Linked DNA regions of Homo sapiens. The protein of the gene in region 1 interacts with the protein of each later gene in a pairwise test. Each region holds a gene or a part of one and is shown on either strand. Other genes may lie near its edges.

Region 1 (4,463 bases):
CATTCAAATATAAAAAAAAGAATAAAAAGGAATATCAGTGCCCTACATAATATTTTCAATCTTTGGTTTTCAATGAGGCTAAAAATCTTGTCCAGCATTTTTTTTGGACTCTGAAGAACTGATGAAAACAAAAATCACATGAGGTAATCTGAGTAAAAGACATGGTGCATGTTGTTCTTATCAATTCAGGATCTATGCTTAGAATAGCTGGTTGTCAGTGTGCTGCCCTTAGCACAGAATACAGGTATTCTAATATATAGTTAGGCTTCAGGAGAGAAAAGGTTAGCAGCATACCATGAGGCACCAATGTGGAATGACCTATCTGGGGGACACTCCAAGGACTCCACTCCTGTCGGCCATCTCCTCGGGCGCAGACTCTGAACTGGTAATCAACGTTGGGGTCTATGTGCAATACTATGAATTCAGTTTCAGAACCTACATATACATCCTCAAAATGATTTGAAGTACATTTACGAAACTGGAGCCTGTAATCTTGGGCTGTAAAGTCATCATCCACCTAGGGAGAAAAGCTTTATGTTAGGTAAAAAACAGAAAATGACTTCTCTCAGCATCACTGCTTAAAAATTTTGAACGGAGCCATTTTGGACCAAGCAGACAGGCCCACATGCTGAATATGGGGTATTCTTGGGAAGGCCATAGAAAATATGCCATCACATCATTATCTCCCTTCTTTTTTTTTTGAGAAAGGGTCTCACTTTGTCACCCAGGCTGTAGTGCAGTGGCGTGATCTCGGCTTATTGCAGCCTCCACACCCCGGGTTCAAGCCATCCTCTTCCTTCCACCCCACAAGTAGCTGGGATTTCAGGTGCACACCACCATGTCCGGCTAATTTTTTGTATTTTTTGTAGAGACTGGGCTTCACCATATCTCAGATCTTTAACTCCTGAGCTCAAGCAATCTTCTCGTCTCAGCCTCTCAAAGTGCTAGGACTATAGGCGTGAGACACTGCGCCTGGGCTCCCTTCTTTTCTTTATTGAACCATGTGTTCTGTATTTCCCAGTCTGATATAAAAAAGTCTGCCTCCTTTGAAGAAATGGCATGTTTTTTAATCAATGCCAAAGATAAAACATTCAAGATTCAGTAAGTCTCCCACAACCATACATCATTCATAATAACCAAGAGATAATTAACATACAGTATACAGAACCCCCATTAATTTTTAGGGGTCCTGCATATATTCTGTATGTTAATTAGCCACCCAATAGAAAAATGGGTAAAAGACATAAATAAGCGTTCTACAGGAGAAGAAACATAAATAGCCAAAAATGTATATTATGAATATTCAACCTAATTTGTACCTAATTTGTAATATGGCAAATACGATCTAAAACCACAACAAGGCCAGACATGATGGCTCATGCCTATAATCCTAACACTTTGAGAGGCCGAAGCGGGTGGAGCACTTGAGCCCAGGAATTTGAGGCCAGCCTAGGCAACACAGCAAAACCCCATCTCTACAAAAAATTACAAAACTTAGCTGGCTGTGGAAGCACATGCCTGAAGTCCCAATTACTTGGGGGCTGAGGCGGGAGGATCACTTGAGCCCAGGAGATTGAGACTGGAGACATGATTGTGCCACTGTACTCCAGCCTGGGTGACAGAGTGAGACCCTGTCTCAAAAACAAACAAATAAATAAAACCACAACAAGGTACATTTAGGCAAAAATATAAAGTCTCACAATGCCAATTATTGGTCAAGATATGGAATAACAGAAACTCATATACTCCTTGGAAGGCTAAATTGATAGAATCATCTTGTGGAAAGTTTGTTATTACCTATCAGCGTATGGATCCAATACTCTAAGAAGACCTCATAATTTTACACCTAGGTAAATATTAATATTTTACAAACTTCACATATGTCCATAAAGAAACACAAGTAAAAATACTTATAGCAAAAAACTGGAAATAACTAGGTCCACTGATAGGAAAAATAATAAAAATGGAATGACAGTCCTGTTAGAAAATAACAACAGCATGTTTATAAAAAAAGAAAAAAAAATTTCCTTTTAATAAAATCTCAGCTGGGCACAGTGGCTCACACCTGTAATCCCAGCACTTTGGGAGGCCGAGGTGGGCAGATCACCTGAGGTCGGGAGTTTGAGACCAACCTGACCAACATGGAGAAACTCTGTCTCTACTAAAAATACAAAAATACTAAAAATACAAACTTAGCCAGGTGTGGTGGCGCATGCCTTAATCCCAGCTACTTGGGAGGCTGAGGCAGGAGGATTGCTTGAACCCGGGAGACGGAGGTTGTGGTGAGCCAAGATCGTGCCATTGTATTCCAGCCTGAACAACAACAACGAAACTCTGTCTCAAAAAAAAAAAAAAAGAAAATGTCAGCCAGGCGGAGTGGCTCACACCTGTAATCCCAGCACTTTGGGAGGCCAAGGTGGGCAGATCACCTGAGGTCGGAGGTTGCATCGCTGCACTCCAGCCTGGGCGACACAGCAAGGCTTCATTTAAAAAAAAAAGGCCAGGCACGGCGGCTCACACCTATAATCCCAGCACTTTGGGTGGCCGAGGCGAGTGGGTCACCTGAGGTCAGGAGTTCAAGAACAGCCTGGCCAACATGGTGAAACCTCGTCTCTACAAAAAATACAAAAATTAGGCAGGTGTGATGGCAGGTGCCTATAATCCCAGCTACTCAGGAGGCCGAAGCAGGAGAATGGCTTGAACCCGGGGGAAGCGGCAGGCGGGGGAGGGCATGGAGGTTGCAGTAAGCCGAGATCACGCCACTTCACTCCAGCCTCGGTGAAAGAGCAAAACTCTGTCTCAAAAAATAAATAAATAAAATAAAAATAAAACTGGAAGAGCTACCTCAGTGTTCCATGTGACTTCATTTTAACTGTAAAGTAAAAGAGATTTTTGTTTGAGAAGAAAAGAATGTATTTAAAAGTAGTCAACGAAAAAATCTGAAAGGCCTCCAAATCGCAAACCCATAATGTGGAAGTCATTTCTAGAATTCTGAATTACATACCTTACACCATCGTACAATGATGCCTCCAGGTTTCTCTATTAGTTCTTCTATCTGTACTGGTGGGCGAGATGCTACTGTTCCATGCTTAAAAATGTGGTCTTTCACTATGTTAAGAATTGAGTCATCCAACTGAGCAGATAAACAAGGCACATCAACCAGTAAAGGTACTTCTGGTAAGCTGAGGAAACAAAGCTCATGTGTTATGAGACCTCTAACTGAGAGTTAAAAAATACAAGAAATATTTTAGAGCAGTCACATGCTTGAAAGATCCTGAAGCCCCCAGTAATTAATTCTCATGGCAGTAGGGGATTTGCAAGATGTTACACAAAGATTCTCTTTTCAAATAAATATAAGTAAGACAGAAAATTGGTAGGATCATAACTGTCCAGTTTAAGCCAAAAGATCTGGTTTACTGGAATATGACTCCATTTCAACAATACATTGATAATTTCTAAAATTTAACAATTCTTTTATATATTGGATTGAAAAAATGTGTAGTAATACTATACCAAGGATTATAATCACAACTATTTCATTAGTAACAGTGGTAATGGGCAGTGAAACGCTTTTTTTTTTTTTTTTCAGACAGAGTCTCACTCTGTCCCCTAGGCTGGAGTGCTGTGGTGCGATCTCAGCTCACTGCAACCTCCACCTCCCCGATTCAAGCGACTCTCTTGCCTCAGCCTCTCGAGTAGCTGGGACTTACAGGCGCACGCCACCATGCCCGGATAATTTTTTATTTTATTTTATACTTATTTTGAGATGGAGTCTTGCTGTTGCCCAGGCTGGAGTGTAGTGGTACAAACTTGGCTCACTGCAACATCTGCCTCCTGGGTTCAAGCAATTCTCCTGTCTCAGCCTCCCCAAGTAGCTGGATTACAGGTCCATGCCCGTCTAATTTTTATATTTTTAGTAGAGACAGGGTTTCAACATGTTGGCCAGGCTGGTCTCAAACTCCTGGCCTCAAGCAATCCACCCGCCTTGGCCTCCCAACGTGCTGGGATTACAGGTGTAAACCACCACGCATGGTCTGAAAACCTTGAAATATATATTCTCTATCTCCCTTAATGAGAATCTTGAACAGAGGGAGGAAAAAAGCAGACATAGTTTAAATGCTTAAAAGTAAGTCAAAAAGGCACAAACTCTTTTACCTGTCCAACTGAATGTGCGAGGCCTTTTTGGTAAAGCTCCACAGTTTCTCATTCTCTTCTCCCACACCACCAAGCATGGCGATTTCACCTACAATCAAGAATAAGAGAACTAGAACAATGAAAATGGTCACATATAAAGTAATCAACACAACTCATGTCTGGGTGGGTCTCTAGCGTTCTTGCAAATAAGTTCTTAAGTGATGCCACAGTCAAATTCCCAAAAAGTTAAAGTAGAAACTATTTTAGACGTGACTCTAAGATCAAATCCAAGAGGAAAAGGGATATACAGTGGCAACATTTTGCCAGAG
Region 2 (3,529 bases), on another chromosome or scaffold:
AGGTTGGGTGGAGCATAGCTGTAGTCCCAGCTACTCGAAGGCTGAGTTGAAAGGCTCACTTGGAGCTTGAGGTCAAGGCTGCAGTGAGCTGATTGCACTACTGCACTCCAGCCTGGGTGACAGAGTGAGACCATGTGTCAAAAAAAAAGCCTTCTGAAGGGATAGAAGGAAAGTTATAGGTTTGAGATCCAATCATAGGCCATGTTTATTAATATAGAATAGAGTATTTATGGCTGGGCGAGGTGGCTCACGCCTGTAATCCCAGCACTTTGGGAGGCCAAAGCAGGCAGATCACAAGGTCAGGAGATCGAGACCTTCCTGGCCAACATGGTGAAACCCCGTCTCTACTAAAAATACAAAAATTAGCTGGGTCTGGTGGCACATGCCTGTAGTCCCAGCTACTCGGGAGGCTGAGGCAGGAGAATGGTGTGAACCCAGGAGGCGGAGCTTGCAGTGAGCCGAGATCATGCCACTGCACTCCAGCCTGGGCGACAGAGCGAGACTCTGTCTCAACAACAACAAAAGAAGGAATCTTGCTTCTCCCTTTAGAACCTGGAAATGTGTCGCATCTCTGAAAATGCTCTGATTTTGCATTTGCAGGTCCTAGAAATTCTTGTCCTTCCTCACTTTTTGTTCAGTACCTAAAATGCCTATACATTTTGTCAACTGGAGCTTTGAGCTAACATCCTAAATTTTAAGGGAGAACAAATATATGTACATTATGTTTGAGGTTTGTCAAGGTTGTGCTAAATGAATACCTCCCACATTTAGTTTAATTACTCTGTAAGTTATATTTAGAATAACAATATTAACCTCTGCTACATAGTTCTCTGTAAAGTACAAAAGCACATTCATATTCATTTTCTTATTTTCTTCACCAAAACCCGGTGGGGCAGTATAAACTCCATGCTGTCAATGACAAGAAAACAAATCCCAGAGGCTGATCTAAGCTAGCTAAGCGACAAAGCTTGATTTTAGAGTCAGGTCAAATCTGAAAATTATTCTTTCCACCATACCTTGCTGTTTGCTCAAAAATAAACAAGAACCAAGAAATAAGAACATCTAAATTATTTTATTAAGGGCAGAGGGGGAAGAAACCCACCAAACAAAGCAGTAATCCTTGATACCATGTTCACTATTATCATCTCATCAAGAGTAGAACACTCAAAAAGGCTCAGACAAGTAACATAAGAGTCATCAGGCCAGGTGCAGTGGCTCACTCCTGTAATCCCAGCACTTTGGGTGTTTGAGGCGGGTGGATCACCTGAGGTCAGGAGTTTGAGACCAGCCTTACCAACATGGTGAAACCCCGTCTCTACTAAAAATATAAAATTAGCCGGGTGTGGTGGCACATGCCTCTAATCCTAGCTACTTGGGAGGCTGAGGCAGGAGAATCATTTGAACCCAGGAGGCAGAGGTTGCAATGAGCCAAGATGGTACCATTGCACTCCAGCCTGGGCAACAAGAGCAAAATTCCGTCTCAAAAAAAAAAATTATGCAGAAAAATGGCAGTGAACTGTTTGTTCTGTAACCCGACATGACATTGACCCAGTTATGTTAGCTGGCACCAACAAATATCCTGAATAAAACAGAACTGACAGCAGCTGGGGGACCCACTGACTTAATTTAGTTAACACTGTTTTAGAAGTCGGTTAAGTAGACCAGGAGTGGTGGCTCATACCTGTAATCCCAGCACTTGGGAGGCTTTGCAAGGCCAAGGCGGACAGATCACTTGAGGCCAGGAGTTTGAGATCAGTCTGGCCAGTGTAGCGAAACCCTGTCTCTACTGAAAATACAAAAAGTTAGCTGGGCGTGGTGGTGCACACCTGTAATCCCAGCTACTCGGGAGGCTGAGGCAGGAGAGTCGCTTGAACCCGGGAGGCAGAGGTTGCAGTGAGCCGCTGCACTCCAGCCTGGGCAATGGGGTGAGACTGTGTCCCCAAAAAATTTTTAAAAAAGAGTTGAGTAAGTAGTTTAAGTTGAGTTGTTTTGTTTACTAATGAATATAACTTACAGGGATTATTTTCCCTATGTAACCTTTCATAGAAGCTAGAAATCAATTTTGTGTTATGGTGAAATTGAAGGTTAATGGAGGGCAGATTGAAGTGTTCCATAAACCCACTCTGTTTGATATTATTTCCAGGATATTTGGATGTTTCGAGCTCGACTTGTGAAAGGAGAAAGAACCAATCTTTGAAATAGCCATCTGCTATAACTCTTTCAACAGAAAACCAAAACCAAACGAAATGTCTAAGGAAAATGTTTTCTTAATGAGATGATGTAACCTTTTCTATCACTTGTTAAAAGCAGAAAACATGTATCAGGTACTTAATTGCATAGAGTTAGTTTTGCAGCACAATGGTGTTGCTTTAATGGAAAAAAAAAACAGTAAAAGTGAAATATTACTGTTTTAAGGAAAACTAATTTAGGGTGGCAGCCAATAAAGGTGGTTGGTGTCTAATTTAAGTGTTAAATCAATTTCTTTCATTCAGTTAGCTCTTTACCCAAGAAGAAGTGAATGATTTGGAGCTTAGGGTATGTTTTGTATCCCCTTTCTGATAAACCCATTCCCTACCAATTTTATGTCATAAGAGATTTTTTTCCCCCAAATCTAGAACAATGTATAATACATTCACATCTAGTCAAGGGCATAGGAACGGTGTCATGGAGTCCAAATAAAGTGGATATTCCTGCTCGGACAAGGGCTTTCTCCTGTGATTTCTTCAACCCAACCATTCCCTTAACAAGAAGACTTGTTCTTTCCAGTCCTTTCCTCTGTTCCTGAAGAATGAAGACAAGGGCCAGGTGCAGTGGCTCACGCCTGTAATCCTAGCACTTTGGGAGGCCGAGGTGGGTGGATCACCTGAGGTCAGGAGTTCAAGACCAGCCTGGCCAACATGGCAAAACCCCATCTCTCCAAAAATACAAAAAAAAAAAAAAAAAATAGCCGAGCGTGGTGGCATGCACCTGTAATCCCAGCTACTCAGGAGGCTGAGGCAGAAGAATTACTTGAACCTGGGAGGCAGAGGTTGCAGTGAGCTGAGATCACACCACTGCACTCCAGCTTGGGTGACAGAGCAAGACCCTGTCTCAAAAAAAAAAAAAAAGGAATGAAAAATAAATAAATAAAAAGAACGAAGATGAGGGTGACTTCATTTGATGTATCTTATTGGGTAGGGCTGCTGGAAACTTTCCACATTTATGAATGAAGCCTAACCTCCTTCAAGCTATAGGGAACTTTTTAGATACTTTTCCCTGGATTTGGAGTGAGCATGGACTGAACAAACTTATTTCAAGACAGCACCATATTTTCGGTACCAGCTGAGGGCAGCAAGGAGACATAGTCCTTATTTTTACAAATTTTAGTTAGGGCTTTAGTAAGAAAGAAATAACAGAGTACCTTTCTTGTCATTCTGCTAAGCACAAGTTTTCCTAAATCTAGTGTTGCCATGAGTGCCGTTTTGTTTGTGAGGACAGCCAAGTGAAGCTCATCTCCCACTGGGAACTGGAGAAGGCAGATCACTGACAG

Evidence for each region.
Region 2: the proteins of CRLF3 (region 1) and PHYH interact in binary tests that used the Homo sapiens proteins (3 or more experiments, as listed by UniProt).

The regions. Positions count from the first base shown.
Region 1 is NC_000017.11:30,793,156-30,797,618, forward strand, and holds part of CRLF3 (cytokine receptor-like factor 3), read right to left. Parts: intron 4,244-4,463; coding exon 4,156-4,243; intron 3,183-4,155; coding exon 3,005-3,182; intron 518-3,004; coding exon 295-517; intron 1-294. UniProt on the Homo sapiens protein: May play a role in the negative regulation of cell cycle progression.
Region 2 is NC_000010.11:13,276,969-13,280,497, reverse strand, and holds the end of PHYH (phytanoyl-CoA dioxygenase, peroxisomal isoform a precursor), read left to right. Parts: intron 1-2,143; coding exon 2,144-2,197; 3' UTR 2,198-2,699; downstream 2,700-3,529. UniProt on the Homo sapiens protein: Catalyzes the 2-hydroxylation of not only racemic phytanoyl-CoA and the isomers of 3-methylhexadecanoyl-CoA, but also a variety of other mono-branched 3-methylacyl-CoA esters (with a chain length of at least seven carbon atoms) and straight-chain acyl-CoA esters (with a chain length longer than four carbon atoms).